Linked DNA regions of Homo sapiens: region 1 is linked to region 2. Evidence: fine-mapped expression QTL. A gene starts in region 2. The other region holds a variant in brackets. All regions are shown on one strand. Distances are between the middles of the regions. Region 1 overlaps CCND2-AS1 (CCND2 antisense RNA 1). Region 2 holds the start of CCND2-AS1 (CCND2 antisense RNA 1).

Evidence for each region. PIP is the estimated chance that this variant, and not a neighbour inherited with it, causes the effect.
Region 1: its variant is the best candidate, but not a certain one, in a credible set for the expression of CCND2-AS1 in prefrontal cortex (GTEx, PIP 0.65).

Annotation. Positions count from the first base shown.
Region 1 is chr12:4,249,815-4,258,142 of GRCh38, reverse strand. The region is part of intron 1 of CCND2-AS1 (CCND2 antisense RNA 1); the gene reads left to right. Among named protein-coding and RNA genes, the nearest start is that of CCND2, 20 kb to the left of the region's middle. The variant G/A (reference allele first, on the strand shown) is at 3,959.
Region 2 is chr12:4,272,618-4,280,945 of GRCh38, reverse strand. CCND2-AS1 (CCND2 antisense RNA 1) reads left to right here and starts at 4,762. Exons shown (of 2, transcript NR_125790.1): 1 at 4,762-4,887. It overlaps CCND2 (cyclin D2), which reads right to left and starts at 7,184. Exons shown (of 5, transcript NM_001759.4): 1 at 6,711-7,184; 2 at 4,726-4,941; 3 at 2,027-2,186. The coding sequence starts at 6,905. RefSeq lists an enhancer at 1-741 and silencers at 1,923-2,115, 7,254-7,343, 7,874-7,993.

The sequences.
Region 1 (8,328 bases), 23 kb after region 2:
TAACCAAAAGAGAGCTGGAGTTGCCACGCAAATACCAGACAAAATAGACTTTAAGACACAAATTGTTACTAGAGATAAAAAGAATGTTTTATAATGATAAAAGGGTCAGTCCATCTGAAGACCTAACAATTATGAACATATATGCACCTAATAGCAGAGCTCCAAAATACACGGAAAAAAATCTGTTCTGTATTGGACAGAAACTTGCCTCTGTGTTGCTTTTACTCCTGGATCTTATTCCTGTTATCTGGAGCCTCACACAACATATACCTGACACATATATGACTAGAAGCTTTTCCAGATATTTGAAGCCAACTCTCATGCCTTTTCTTACTTTCAGTTTTTTATGTGGCCTTGTCCCTATACATTTTTTTCCTAGAATGTATTTATATCTTTTATAAAGAAGGCTACTGCAATGTTAAGAGAGGAACCTACTTTCATAGAATTTCAGAGTTGGAAGGAAACCAAGATGATCTTATTCAAATCTCTACTTTTATAGATGAGTAAACTGGGGCCTGAGCTGGTTAAGTCATTGAGCCAGTTAATGGCAGACCAAGATTCATAATCTTGGTTTTCAAACTACTTGTTCAGTGTTTATTCCAACATTTTCCTTCTTTGATAGTTTTTCCTACTTTAGGTTGCTATTTCTTCTCCCTTCTTTCAGTGGCATCTGGCACCTTTCATCAGAGAAAAAAGCTCAGAGTGATGAAGAAACTGCACTAGACATTAAAAGACATGGATTCTTATCTTTTTTGGTCACTAATCAACTTTCGAGGCCTTGGATAAGTCCCTTATGAAAATAATAACTATTATTCACCAATAATATTTTACACTATTGAGTACCTACTGTTTATGAGGCACTGTGCCAGGCACTTTGCCTATATGCCTCTTCATATAAGTGTTCAAAATGTGTCTCCTTTCTTATCTATACAATAAGCAGGTTGTCTGTTGTCCTATCCAGCTCCGGAATTGGATGATTGTAAAAAGCTATCTTTATTAGTATAGTCTTATAATGCCTGAGGCTTCATCTTTATCTTCCTCTTTCTTGTTTCCTGGGCTGGCAGGAAATTGTAAGGAAGATTAGAATACTTTCTCTAGATTTGTCACTATAGCGAATCCTTTGTATGTGTACCCTTCCAAGGGACTTTCTATTTTCCCATAGGACTTGGCTTGACTTTTACTGGTCCTGTTCAGGGTTTCCAGGATCCTATTCTCAGCCTACTTCTCACTTTAGATTTTCCCGTGGGCCTTTGATTCACTCTCATGGCTTCTTATTTCACTTATGAGCTCAGAGAAGTGAATAATTTGATGAAGTTCACTCAGCTATTAGCAGCAAACTTGACAGTCTGTCTGATCCCACTGTGTTTGTTATTTCTGCTACATGATTCCCATCTCTGAAAGTTCACTTGATCTTACTTTCCCACCCTTGCTTAAGACCTAGCTCAAGCCCTAACCTGTCATCATCACACCAGGCCAAGTGCTCCTCCCTCCCAATTTACCCAGAGAGTGATGTTTGCACTGCACATCAGCCATCACCTTGGGACTTGCCCCTTGGCAGACTTTGTGGTCTAGTGGTTATGAATGTGGGGTCTGGAGACAGAGGGCCAAAGTATGAATCCTGGCTCTACCACTTATTGGCTGTGCAACCACAGAAAAGTTACTTAACCTCTCTGGGCCTCAGTTTCTTCAACTATAATCAGGAACTGCTAGTAGCACTTACTTCATAGGGTTGTTACGAGGATAAATGTGATAATCCATGTAAAGGCAAGTAGCACAATGCCTGACACATGAAAGAAGCACACATTAAATTGACTCCTTCACCAGATCTTGGGGTAATCCCTGATTGGCCCAGGATGATCAACATAATCCCATCCATCTTGCAGAGTGATTGAGTCAGAGTTGGGTACATGCACTTGACTAGTTTAGAGTGGCTTGCAGGATGCAGATGACGTGGCCTCAGGTATGAAGCTTGGAATTGGAATTGCCAAGGTTTTTTTTTTTTTTTTTTTTTTTAACTAGAGGGAAGTCAACTTGAGGACAAAGCTGACACATGTAGTAAGAAAGAACTGAGAAGAGCAAAGGAACTAGAACCAGAGGCTTGATCGGCTATCTCCTGAAGTCCCATTGACCTTTGGAATTTTCGTTGCTTGAGCCAATTAAAAATTTGGGGAGCCAAGCACGGTTGTGCATGCATATAGTTGCCTGTAGTCCCAGCTACTGAAGAGGCTGAGGTGGGAGGATCACTTGAGCTCAGGAGTTTGAGTCCAGCCTGAGCAACATAGTGAGATCTTGTCTCTAAAAAAATAAATAAAAATGCATACTTTTTTTTTTTTTTTTGAGACGGAGTCTCGCTCTGTGGCCAGGCTGGAGTGCGGTGGCGTGATCTCGGCTCACTGCAAGCTCCACCTCCTGGGTTCATGCCATTCTCCTGCCTCAGCCTCCCGAGTAGCTGGGACTACAGGCGCCCGTCACGACGCCCGGCTAATTTTTTGTATTTTTTAGTAGAGACGGGGTTTCACCATGTTAGCAGGATGGTCTTGATTTCCTGACCTTGTGATCCGCCCGCCTCGGCCTCCCAAAGTGCTGGGATCATAGGCGTGAGCCACCGCGGCCGGCCAAAAAAAATGCATACTTTTAAGTCAGGTGGGGTGGCACGCACCTGTAGTCCCAACTACTCAGGAGGCTGAGGCAGAAGGATTGCTTAAGGCCAGGAGTTTGAAGATATAGTGCACTATGATCATACCTATGAGTAGCCACTGCACTCCAGCCTAGGCAACATACGAAGCCCTGTTTCAAAAAATAAATTGGTACTTAAGCTAATTTGTTAGTTTTTTAAATCATCTGTAACTGAAAATATCCTCGATATCCTCATTGATACTGTATATTATTATTACTATCATCTTCCCATGTATATCAAACCTTTGTCATTAGATCATAATGTCCTTTGGAACAAAAATGAACTAAAATGAACTTACTGAGCAGTATGCTGCCATTCCACCTAGTACAGATCTGGCATATAGCAGGTTCTCGTCCATTCACACTTCATATTGGATACTAATTTCACCCTGGTATCTATGGATTTTCAGCATTTTTTTTTTTGAGATGGAGGAGTCTCGCTCTGTCGCCCAGGCTAGGTTGCAATGGTGCAATCTTGGCTCATTGCAACCTCCACCTCCTGCGTTCAAGTGTTCTCCTGCCTCAGCCTCCCAAGTACCTGAGACTACAGGCATGCACCACCACGCCAGCTAATTTTTGTATTTTTAGTAGAGACTGGGGTTTCACCATGTTGGCCAGGCTGGTCTCAAAGTTCTCACTTCGGGTGATCCGCCCACCTCAGCCTCCCAAAGTGCTGGGATTACAGCGGTGAATCACCGTGCCCGGCCCAGACTTTGAGCATCTTTAAGGCAGAAAGAGGAGGTGGCCAGAGTCCCAGGTAGGATGATGGCCTGCTGCTGCTTTGTCTTTTTACTGTCCTATAATGAGCGGAAAGTAAAATAGTTAATAGACTAGTTCATCCTTATTGAGCACCAGGGATTGTACACACCGGATCATCATTCTTCCTATCAGTTACCTGTGGGTATATTATTAATGCCCTGTGTTGCAGATTGGAAATTTATGCTCAACAATGATATTTAACTTATGTAGATCACACAGCCTCTACATAGCATAATTTAGGATCCTGTGCTCAAATTACTGTATCCATAACTTTTTGTCATCCCACTTTAAAGAAAATGAAATTAGAAGTCTTAGACAATGCATTCTGAGTATGGCTTACATACTCAGTAAAATGGTATACAGCTCTAATCAACAGACCCAGACTCAAAAAGCTTTGGACTGCTACCAAGAGATTGGTAAATAAATGTACATTAACTTTAAATAAAATGTGTATGGTATGTATGATTCATTTTTTATGATTTCTCACTTTCCCAACATTTTCAGATAACTCATCGTTTCCTCA[G/A]TCACATCAGAGAGATCCTGATGGTTTTCTTTTTGGAACTTAACAGTTTAAAAACCTAAATAGGATCATGCCAAACATATTGTTCTGTGACTTGATTTTTTTCAGTGAATAATCATCTCTTGGAGTCTTGCTATGCCAGTACATATACATCTACTTCATTCATTTTAAGTGCAGAATGCTTTTCAATAGCAAGGATATGCCAGAATTTTACGACTTCCCATAATTAATGGCATTTGGGGGCCCTCCTTCACCAGTTGTTTGCTTGTATACATAATGTGCCATCAGCATCGTCGCACTTGCTTCTTTATGCATTCAAGTGCCAGTGGAAGGAGAAAGAGCTTGAAGTCCTGATTCTATCAATTAAGTGGTCCAAGAAAGAGAATGAGCATCTTGAGGTCTCCATCTTCAACAGCCTTACAGTCTGGAGGGAAGCAGACACACACACAGCTTTTACTTAGGGAGACGGGGGTCAATTGAAGGTTAAGGGAGTGCAAAAAGAGGGAGACTGAGGGGTTCAGTCGAGGGGATGACTGAGAAGGCTGCCTGGAGGAGGTGTGCTTGAGTCCTGGGTTCAAGGGTTAAAAGGCTCTGATACTTGGTCTGCTAATCTTTCTTATCGTATCGTTGCCTGGCAGTATGCCTGTTATTTGAGTGGACTCTTCTTGGACCATTTGCTTGGATGAACAGTGGGCAGAAGTGGAAAGGAAGGGTGCTCTGGACAAAGGTGACAAAGCCCAGGAACAAAAGTCGGAAGGTGCACAGTGTGCCCAGAGGGCCAGGAATTGGGTGGAGTGACTGGCTCCTTGGTCGCTTGCAAGTAGCATGAGAATAGAGAGGGCTGGGAGATGCATTAAAAAGCACCAGGACAAATTTAGGTTTGCACAGAAAAGGACGTTTCGTCAGGGTACGTGAGGAAAGTTGAGTAGAGAATTTAGGAATGGAGCAGACGACTCTGGTTGGGATGATGAGAGCGGAGAGACAGATCCATGTTCTTTCCAGGTGCCCCAGCAGCTCCAGGTCTCGCTGAACCTGTTACTATGGCAGCGTCTATGCTTCACTTTTGAGGATTGCTTCTGCTTTGAAATAGCCGTGTGGAAGAAAAACTACAAAGTTTTGAGGGGGAAAAAACCCACCTAACTTTAGCTGCCGTTGTGTCTTCATCTGTAAAAATCTTCTTCATGTCTCATGGATTTCAACATGCAGTTTATCTTGGTTTGTTCCATAAAACATCAGATGCAACTTTAATGGCCTAACCCCAAAAAGATAACTTGGCAGCCATCAAGCATTCAGCAGCGTTCCAAATGCCCTCTTGCTGGAGCCAGCCTTCTACGGGGCCATGTGGATGTCAGGCACACACAATTTGAGTCACGCTGACATAGCTGGGATGCCTGGATTGCACTGGAATCTGGGGGGTACCAATCACAGGCCAGAGAGAAGCCATTGGCTGGAAGGAACAATGCCAGCGTGTTCACCGTCTCTGCAGAAGGAGGGGGTGTTGATGGTGAGGGGAATGACAGTTGCAGCCAAAGGAGCAAAATGACCCCAAAGCAGGGTGGGCACATGTCATTGATGCTGGGCAGAAGCACTCCAGGGGCTCAGGTCATGACCACACCCCTTTTCTCCTGCCCCACAACCAGAAAAACTAAGAAGGTACAAGATTTTCCCTAAAACTTAATGTACAGAATGCCCTGCTGTCTTCAGGTTTTTGGGAAATCCAGGGTTGACAACAACAGCCCAAATATATGAAGCACTTACCTCTACCAGGCACTGTCTGTATCTTACAAATAATTCGTTTAATTCTCACAACTCCTTAATGAGGTAAGTTTTACAATTTCCATTTTATGATGAGGGAAACTGAGGCTTAGAAAGATTAAGAAACTTGCCCAAATCCTGCAGCCAGAAATGGGCAGAATCAAGACATGAACCACAGTCTCTCAAAAGCCAAAGCCTGGGCACTCACTACTACCCTCAACAGCCCGGTGGCTGGTTCATGCCATCTCTGCCACCCTCACACAGCCACCTCTTGGATGGTAGAACCCTGTGTGTTGAACAAGTAGAGTAACATTCTAAAAGGATTCTTTTTCCTCCCCTGTTTTCCTGGGGGCTGAGTAGACATGTTTAAACATGCTGTTCATCTGACACTTGTTTACTTCAGTGGCTATGATGTGCAAGACCCCAGACCAGGAACAGTAAGAGGGCATGAGGATAACCCAGCGTGGAGACCACTCTGGAGGAGGCTGCAGACTGGAGGCGCTGTTGTAGCCAGCTGCATTTTGGAGGCTGGGTTGCCTGTCTTAGATCTCTAATGAGTTTGGTCATTATTTTTTCAGCCAGGGTTTTCTTCCTCCCTCCCTGTCTTCCTTCCCTTTCTCCTTCCTTCCTTCATTCCTTCCTTCCTTTCTTCCTTCCTTCTTTCCTCCCTCCCTCCCTCCCTCCCTCCCTTCCTTTCTCTCTTTCCTTCTATCTTTTATTTTCTCTCTTTCTCTGTCTCTCTCTTTCTCTCTTTCTTCCTCCCTCCCTCCCTTTCTCTCCTTCTTTCTTTCTCCCTCCCTCCTCTCCTCCCTCTCTTGGTCTCTCTCTCTCTCCCTTCCTTCCTTTGTTCTTTCAAGATTTTTCTTTCTTTCTTTCTTTCTTTTAAAGGTGTAAGCCTTTTTCTGGTTCACTACATGCCAAGGACTGCGCTAAATCATTCACATAAAACCACCAGCGTGCATCACCTCATTTGGTCCTCCCACAGTCTAACGGGTAGGTACTGTCATTACCCTCATTTTAAGAAAATGAAGAAACTGAAGCTCAGAGAGGTGAATTGATGTCTCCACCGTCTGCCTGATTCAGTACCCTGCACCCTTAACCACTATAAAAGAACAACATGCCAATAGTTCCCTAATGCTGTAAAAGGCACTGTTTTAAACGCATCCTTTATATCAACTCACTCACTCCTCCAAACAGGCGCAATAGAAATTACTATTATCCTTGTTTAATACATTGGGAAACCAAAGCACAGAAAAGTCATGTAATTTTCCCCAGGTCACCCAGCTAGTAAGTGACAGAGCTGGGCTTCTGTTTCACCGAGGAAGACATTCCTCAGTTTTTGTTCTGTTTTGTTTTTCACTTGAAATCCCCCGCGATGGCCCAGAGTGGAATGCCAGGGTCCTGAGAATAAAGTCTCTGAGCTGAACTGGGAAGGGGTGCCAGTGGCAGCTGTGTCCCCTACAGCTCTGGAAGGTGGAGGCGGTGGAGACAGCAACTACACAGCAGCCACAAGCCTGGGTCCCTGCCAGGGGAGACCTCAAAGTCCCCTCGAGGGTTGGCTTCTCTGTGCTGGGCCGTGCACAAAGGCGAGTCATGGCTTCCAGGAGGCCAGCAGAACATGGTCCTCGGGAGAGGAGAAAGCCCGAGGGAAGGGCTGATGGGACCTCAGCCCTCAGCTCTGAGAAGGGCTGCTCTTTAGGAGAGGGGATGTAGGTAACAGCTCCACCAAGAGCCAGGCAAGCAAAAGTAGGTTTCTGTTTGAGCAGCAGCTGGGGAATTTCAGGGAGAGAGAGGAATCCGTTCCCAACAGTGCATAATGTTCAACCCTGGAAGAGGTGACCATCAAGGGGGCCTCTAGAAAGAGTAGACGGGCTGCCCTTAGGCTGGCCTCTTTATTATCTCTGCCCCTGACCTTTGGGAATCCTGTCCATCTTTGAGTCCCTGGCGCCAGTGACTCCACTCTGCGAATCCCTTCCTGACCAGCCATCCCCCACACCCGTAAGACTCCAAGTTCTTTTTGGGGGACAGAAACCCCAAGTGTGCTGAGGTCCAGGCTGCTCCACATTCATCCCTGGGTGGGCTGTGGCTCAAACCAGTCATTTGGGTGACAGAAGTCTCAGACACTCTGGAAGCTGGCCCAGTTGGTCCTGGTGCCCCCAAGAACACTCATACCCTATTCTCCTGCAGCAAATATACCCTCTCTACTATTCGTTTGGCCTTGGCTATTAGGTATCATGTGACCTCGCTGGTGTGGCATCTCCTGGTGTTAGCGGCTTCTTGCATGAGTACATTTCTCAGATGATCAGACAACATTTATTGAACACTTACCATGTGCCACCTACCGCTGTAACTGCTTTATGGGGTTATCCATTTAATTCTCCCAAGAACCCCATGAGTTGATGTTGTTTTTATCACCATATTACAGAGAAGGAAATGGGGGCCTAAGTGCTCAGTGGCTACAGGATGAGCTGGGACTCAAACACAATATTGGAACCCCAGCCATCAAAATCTGTGATTTGTCCCTGGTTTGTGTCTCAACCAAAAGAAGTCAGAGTCTTTTTTACTCCCTTATATCTCCCGTAGCTCCCGGCCAGTGTCTGTATACAGTAGTTGTTCAA
Region 2 (8,328 bases):
GGATGGGATCCCCGGTTTTCGAGAATGGGTCTAGACGGAATCTGGGGATCTGCCCACACCCCGGTAACTCCACCCAGCACCCCTACCCCAATCAGAGATCAGAGAGGAGGAAGGGGCAGTTAGACCCCAAAAGATCTGTTAGTCAAGAGACAGTGTTGAGCAGAGCTCTGGCTATCAACAGCTGGGCAGTGGGGGAGTTTAGGGTCGGGGGTCAGCTGTCCTTGGGCCAGAGAGAAAGAACTGGCTGACCCCTCCCCCACAGTGAATCATGATGAGAGAGGAAGGAGACAGCCGAGCCTGGGAGACAAAATGACAGGTCACTGGAGGACTGACCTCTCGGGCCCGGGCCAGACAGCAGAAGGGAAGGAAGCCAGAGTGACCACTATCCAAAAGGCAGCAGGGGTCCACAGGGGTCCTAAGAACCGCCCCCAGGGCTGCAGGAAGGATAACGGACTCTCCCACCAAGGGGCACAGGGCGCATGTGCACGCCATGAGGCCTGGCCTGCATCCAGGAGAACAGGACTACAGAAAACCAGCAAGGGGAAACCTGTGCCCTAGATGAACAGGCAGGGGGCCGGGAGGACTCCACACTCAAGCCTGCAAGTGCAGAACACACAGGTCCTGCTAGAAACACGTAAGGGCAGCCAGAAAAGGAAAGCCATCATATCCACTTTAGTCGGAACAGTTAAAATCAGGGTGAAAATCGGAGATGGTAGCATTTTCACAATTAGTGAAGGTCCAACCTACACTTCGGTTTACAAAGCACGTCCACGTGCATCACCTCTTTCTGATTTTAATTTTCCTAGCTGCTCTGAAAAGGCTGTAGGATGATGTATCAATAGGCTTGTTTTGGAGATGAAGAAGCTCGGGTTCAGAGAGGTTAAGCAGCCAATTAAAGGTCACTCACTGATATGCAGCAAAGCCTGACTTTTTGACTGTGAGCACAGGGCATATGCACTACATCGTACGTTATATAATCATCCGTTCCGTAGAACTCACCAGTAACATGTAACAACATCCTGAAAAAAGTTACCACGTGAGTCCACCTAGCGATTTAACTACTCTTGGCAAATTTGAGGTGAAGCACACCGAAAGGTCTTCCCAAGTGATCAGCTTTTTACCTAAGGTTTCTGATTGTCAAAACATGAACTCCTGACATCTCTCCCTTGGATGAGTAAGGTTCCAGGGTCTCTGCCATGGCCACTACCAAGAAAAAAAAAAACAAAAAACCAGTAGACACTGGCCAAGGCTGTTTAATAAGACAACAGCAAACCACTGCCTTTGGTTTATTAGGAAACTACAAAACAAATGGGCCAGTAGGAATGATGTATCAATTGTGGGATCCACGTGGTAGGCGGAATTGCAACGTTAAAGGCTGCGGCCAAAATCAAAACACCTCCACATGAACTGAGGGCATCAGAACCCAGCGCTCAGAAAGTAAAGCCTCACCGAAAGCCAACCAGGTTCCCTCCCGCGCCCAGTGGGGCAAACAGCTAGAGAAGCAAACAGCTAGAAGGCCATAAATGCCCTACAGTAAAAAAAAAAAAAAAAGAATTTCTTTGGTCTCCCTTACCACTAATCAAGGCAGGCAGCATATTTATCTTGACGTTGTTCCTTTAACCTGTATTTGCCCCCATCCCCCTCGAGATTTCCTCTTGGGCTTATCTCCAAGCCATCCTTTTCCTTAAAAGATTAAAGATTTGAACACAACCAGTGAGCAGTATATGTAATCTTCAAAGAGCACTTTAGCCATCATAAAGAATATTTTAACAGGCACTAATTTTTTTTGCCTTAACCACACCTGTCCTCATAAACCATTTATGAGTTTAGCAGAGAAAGCGAATATATAAAGCTCAGATAAAGAAAAAGCAACCCAGGAATGAAACTTCAGACTTTAGACTACTCAAGACCACCCCTCCTCCAAACTCCTGAACTAAAATGAAAGTTCCTACGGCCTTTTGCCTCTCCCCGGACATCTCCCAAAAGAGCTCCCCCATCTCCCTCCCCGGCTCAAGCCTCATCTTACCGGTGGCACACAGAGCAATGAAGGTCTGAGCATGCTTGCGGATCAGAGACAGCTTCTCCCGCTGCTGGGGCAGCTTGCGCAAGATGTGCTCAATGAAGTCATGAGGAGTGACAGCTGCCAGGTTCCACTTCAACTTCCCCAGCACCACCAGTTCCCACTCCTGGAGGGGAAGGCAGGAAGAGAAGAGGAGAATCTAAATTCCACAGGCTGACCTGGTGTAGGGGGCTGGGGGTTGGGCTCCAGACCAGTTTTAAGGCCGCTCATTAGGACGTGGCTGCTAGATTGTAAGGCGGGCCCATTTGTCAATGTGCCCCTGAAGCTTTGAAGTTGTTGACAGCTCTTCTTATGCTTCAAATGTCAGGCTCCACTGAAAATAATGAGAGCCCAGGTAGCTGTTGCCAAGATTCTATTTTCTTCTACTTCGTTTCCACTCCAGCTCCCCTTACCCCCTCCCAACCCTGACTTGCAGGCAATACTGCTTCCCGCCCACCCAGAAAGCTGAACCTACAATGAGATACGGCCAAGGTCATTGTGGCCCTTTCATGGTAATTTATTGTATATGTCTCTATCACCGAATTAATAGTCTTTTTAATCTTCATGGAAAAATGATGCACACAGATAAAGCTCAAAATAAGGTTCCTTGGCCCAACTCCTTGGCAACCAATTAGCTTGCTTTTACTTAGTGCCAAAAAGTGCCTTTATCTCTCTGCTGCTCAAACTCCCCTTTTACATATCAGGCAGAAATTCTGGGGATGTGACACTCAGCCCTTTCCCCTAAATGTTTCACAGGCCATTGTCATCATGACTAAAGGACCACATGGTCATTAGCAACCTCATTTTGCAGATGGAGGTGATCTGGGGCAAGGTGAGGGTGCCTGCTCAGTGTCACAGCATCCCTCAGTGCAAGTGTGGGGACCACACAACCCTGTCTCTTGGGTCTCTCACCAGCAACCCACCTGAAAAAGAACCTTGTTTCCCTCTTTCACTGAGATACTTACGGGAAACTGTGCTCAAAGGGAAACGGTCCAAAATAAAACATTAAAAATATCGTATGTGCTACCAGAAAATATGCCTATCCACTGAGCTGTCATCAGAAGAATGAGAGGCAGGGCCTGTTTGCCAATGCACCCTCTCTCCCATTCACCTGGAGAACCTGGAATCTCTTTCATTTGCTAAACCAGCAACCAGAGCACCAGTCCCACAGCTGTGGGGCTGGGGGTGATTCCCTTTCCCTCCCAGGCCTCAGCCTTCTCATTTGTAAAATAGGACTCTTCCAAATCCCAACTTCTGGGATAAAGGGAATAGGAAAAAGCCAAGTTTGTTTGTAGCAATATATTGCTTGGCTAGTCCTGGAAAGATTTGGGTGTCCTGAAGAACATCTCAATTCACCATCCTCTCGAAACAAATGAACCATATGAAGATGATTTTTCCTGCTCTCTCATGAGAAAAACAAATTGGTTCCCAATTCTAACAATGTTTTCTTCATAAGCTTTAAAATCTGCCTTGGCTTTCTGTGTACAGCCGGGGTAAAGCACCCCAATAAACTACTAAACCACCATCATCTTCAAAGATGGCTTGAAATGCCAGCCCTTCCTCTTCACAGGGTAATGCGAGTACGAACCACTGGTCTTGCACCGTTATTAAAGGAAGCAGATCTCCCAGAAGAAAGCACCTTTCTAGGCCTCTCGGACCAAACCAGAAGCAGCTAAAACCTGGCAGCGGTTCAAAGGTGAAGTCATTCAGGCCCCTCTCCACATTCTCGGCAATTCCTCCCCCAACCTTGTGCATGTCTTCCACTAGATGGCAGCAGAGCCCCAGAAAGGAAGGCTCCTCACAAAGAGCTCAGTTCAAGAAGCCAGCCTCAGCCCTGTGGACTTTGTGCGGGCCCTACCAGTGAGGAGGGGGAGGGGCGGGAAGGAGGGGGTGCTTTTCTGAACAGTGCAAAGAGGGGTGTGCAAACCACCGAAGGTGGGCCTTGGAGCCGCTATTCCATGCGGTACAGCTGCAATATGGTCGTCTTATATGTCAAGCTGCAGGGAAAAGGAGTTAGATCAGGTGGGAAAAAGGTTCCCTGGTAGAAAAGCAGAGATAAGACAGGATCCCTGGGGTTGTACAGAGGTCACAGTCCCACTGGAGGTAGGAACCCAGGCCTCGGACTCCTTCAGTGAAAGGCCACATTTTGACTTTGCTCAAAAGTCAATGAACTGATATTTAGTGAACAGCTATTATGTGTTGGTATCTTGAGACTTTGTAGATATAGAGGGCATTACCTTTGAACTCCAAGTTTTTAGGAGACACCACAGCCACATACCTATCATGTGAACACGTTCTCAGACTATTTTTGGAAATTTGGAATTTAATTAAAATATTATCACTGTTAATTAAAATATTCCATGCGTCCCCTACACACATGCATACACAATTGCAAATGAGTCTCACCAACCCAAATCTCCATGAGGATCTTATTCACAGATGTAGCCTCAGTGCTGGGCACGGAGCCTGGGCACATAGTAGGAACACACAAAAAATAAACAGTGGTTTCCTATTAAATGAGCTATCGCCCATAAGTGGGTAAATTCTATTGGTGGGGTCATTCTGGATCCCAAGAATTTGCTCTGGCAGTGGTGATAGAAGGCATATTGTTGGCCAGGGGAAAGCGGGAATCGCAGAAAGGAAGGGAGGAAGGGGCCGGTCATTACCAGCAGCTCCTGAGGCTTGATGGAGTTGTCGGTGTAAATGCACAGCTTCTCCGCGGTCAGCGGGCTGGTCTCTTTGAGTTTGGAGGCCAGGAACATGCAGACAGCACCCAGGAGTTGCAGATGGGACTTCGGAGTCGGGACCCCAGCCAAGAAACGGTCCAGGTAATTCATGGCCAGAGGGAAGACCTCTTCTTCGCACTTCTGTTCCTCACAGACCTATAATGGGAGTGGGAAAGGGTTGGGGGGCGGGGGTGGAGAGCATAGCATCAGCAAAAGAGAAAAAGAATAAAAAAGCGTAATCTATCGAAACAAAAAAAATTAATTTTTTTTTGTGGGAGGGGGAGGGGACCAGAATGCGTGATAAGAATAAAGAACAAAGATGAGGAAACTGGAGTGAATCAGAATAGCCCATCAGTGCTTTGGTATTCCCAGGGATCCTATAAAAGGGGGTGAACTACAGCTCCAAAACGGGGAGTCGGAGAAGTGCGCAGCAGCCGCGGCAGCTCCGCGACGCTCCCTTTGGCTACTCCTTCGCGCACTCTAACTCACTCACTCTTTTTTGGATTTCGTCATCTTTTCAAAAAATCAATAAAAATATTCTGGAGGCTCCGGGGGTCCACTTCTTGGTCTCATCCGGATCCCCAGATCCTCCTCTATCATTCCCGACAATTGGAAAAAATGTCTGGGGGGGTCCCTGCGGCCCAGGGGCCGCTTTTGGGGGGGCGGGTGAGGAGAGGTGGGGAAGAGAGGGGGAGGGAGGAGAGGAGGAAGAGCGCCGCAGCCTCGGCAGCTGGAGTCGGAGCAGGGGGGGATGGTTTCAAAAAATAATTAAAAATCGAGGAAATATCCTAGAAAAGCCCTTTTGGCGTGAAAACCCCAAAGAAGAGCCAGGCTTCCCGAAACAGAGGTTTCGGGTGCCAGAAAGGTCTGTATTCCGACCCCTGGGGCTTTGGATCCCGGGAGGAAACTTGAAGGGGTGAGCGCCGCGGCGGGAGTGTCCGGCTGCGGCCCACAAGGACAGAAACTAGGGAACGCGGTGACGAGCGAGGGGAAAGACGGGAGCAGAGAGCCCTGGAAAGAGGCACGGGGGGCTCCCACCTCTCCTTCAGGGGTGACCCGGTATCCCCCCTACACACACCCCCTCCCCCCCTTCCTACCCCACCCAAATCTCCGCACCGAGGAAGCTGGAAAACCAAACTGTAAGTAATCTTCGTGAGGTGGGGGGTGGGGGAGAGGGCACGATTAGAAGTGGGGTGGCCGGGATAATGGGGTGCGAGGGTAAGCGGGCGACGTTTCCCAGCCTTTCCAAAGGGAGTTTGCAAAGCAACATGGCGAAACCACGGCAGGTCCAGAGCTGTGCATACGTGGGCACACGGCTCGCTGGGCAAAGACTTGGAGTGAGGGGCAAGAAGCGGTTCTTTTGGGTTCCCCTGAAACACGCGTTTCTTCAATGGGACTTCCGGGGCTCCCGAATTCCCCGTTTCTCTCCTTCTCCCTCCTCCCTCCACCTCCCCGGTGAAGTGCCAGCGCGGAGTCGCGACCACAGGCGGGGACCTGAGGCCAAGACGAATTTGCTCTGGCCTTTTGGGGGGGGTTGCCTTTCTACTCGGGGTCCCGATTTCAGGCCCCGACTCTCTTCCTGGCCGCAGCGCAAGCAGCCGCGGCGGCTTCGCAAAAGACAGGTCGCGAGGGGGGTGGGAAGAAGAGGCAGCCACATGCAGGAACACGCGCGCGGGATGCTCCCCTACCCCCGCCCAGGACAGCCTCGCTTCTCCCAGATTTTCCTCCCCCCTCTGCCTCCCCAGTTTATCTGGAGAGGAACAGAAATAAAGCCACGCGTCTCGCCAGAAGGCGCGCGGTAAACTCCCGCACAGGAGCCGGGAGGCCGGCGCGGGGATTGCCCTCTCCCAGGTTTAGGGCTCCGGCCGGGGACCCGAGCATCCGGAGGGGTCCTGGCTCCTGGCGAGCGCCACCCCCCGACCTACCTCCAGCATCCAGGTGGCCACCATTCTGCGCATGTAGGGTTGGATGTCCTTCTGCACGCACTTGAAGTAGGAGCACTGCGGAAGGTAGCGCTCCTCGATGGTGAGCAGGTTCTGCAGGACGCGGTCGTCTCGGAGCAGGTTGCGGTCCCGCACGGCCCTGCGGACCGGGTCCACCTCGTGGCACAGCAGCTCCATGGCCAGCCCGGCGGCCCCTCTCCCTCCTGCTTTCCCCGGCCTGGAAAAAGGTTTTTCTGTTTTTGTTTTTTGGAAGGGGAGGGGAGAGCGTTCCCCTGACCTCCTTCCTTTGGCTAAATAGGGGGTTTTCGGGGGAGAGGTGAGGGCAGAGAGAGAAGGTGGAGCAGAAGGGAGGCGAGGATTGGGTGGTGGGCGAGCAGAGCCTCGGGGCTGCCTCACTCGCACCGGTCCTCCCCTTAAAACTGGTCTCGCTCTCCCCTGCTCGCTCTTCTCCGCTCTGAAGCGGTGACGCAAGCTGGCTGGGCAGTTAGCTCTCCTCCCTCTCCCCGCGCTCCCCGCTCTGGTTCCTCCTCCCCTTTCCTCCCCTCCCGGTCCTCCCCTCCTCCTTTCAATCTCTCCCTCCCTCCCTCCTTTTCCCCTCTCGTTATTAAGGAGAACAGCAGCTGGCCCGACCCAACTTCAAACGCGGTCCCCCGCCACCCCCCACCCCTCTCCCTCCATCCAGCCCTGCATGCCAGGGGCCCCGGACAGGGCAACCCACAAAAAACTACCGACTCCTATTTCTGCCCTCTAATTTCACTCATTCTGTAGGTGTAGCACGCCAAAATACGACCCTCCAACTTTGGCTTCTTCAAAACGGATCCTAATCCTCCTGCCCTTGTATTTAAGATCCAGGAATGTAGGGTAGATTATCTGAAGATGGGGTGACCTCAGACAATTTAGAAATAGGTCCCTTAAGTGAAAAATAAGGGAGGGGGTGATTTTAGAAAATAGCAACCTCGCATACCCAGAGATAAAGGTCATGTCCCTGAAGTCTGTGTTCCTGATAACTTCGAAGCTGTTTCGAAAGCCCCGATTAAAGGGACCAGAACAACGTCCCTTCTGCCCCCCCCTGCAGAGTGTGTGCAGAGGAAGAAGAGGGAGGGAGAGGTGGGTATTAGGAAGGAAGGGGGGTGCTTCTCTGGAGGGATAGAATGTGATCCTCGAGCAGAAACCATCGTGTTTCTGGGGGCTCTTCGGGCGCCGTGGGGCGACGCGGTGCAGCGTCTAGGGCCGCCGCAGGCCGGGGGCAGGGCTCCCAGCGGTTCCCCCGCGGCCAGCGGCCACGCAGGAAAAACCCGCTTCCTCGCCCCTGCATCTGCTGACAAGCCGCCCGAGGTGTCTGCGCTGAGCGTGGCCACACCGATGCAGCTTTCTAGGAAATGGCCCGGGAGGGGGAGGGGGCGAGTGAGGGATTAGGTCCGGCTCCCCCTCGCTCCCCCTGCGCAAACACCACCACCCCTTCCTTTCCCCGGAGGCATGAGGCCTCCACGCTCGGTCCTTCGCCCGCATCCTCGCCGACCCCTCCGGTTTCGCGCCTCACTCGCCAGGCTTTCTCCCTGGGAGCCGACTGCGGTGAAGTCGCCGCCAGCACGGTCGGCCC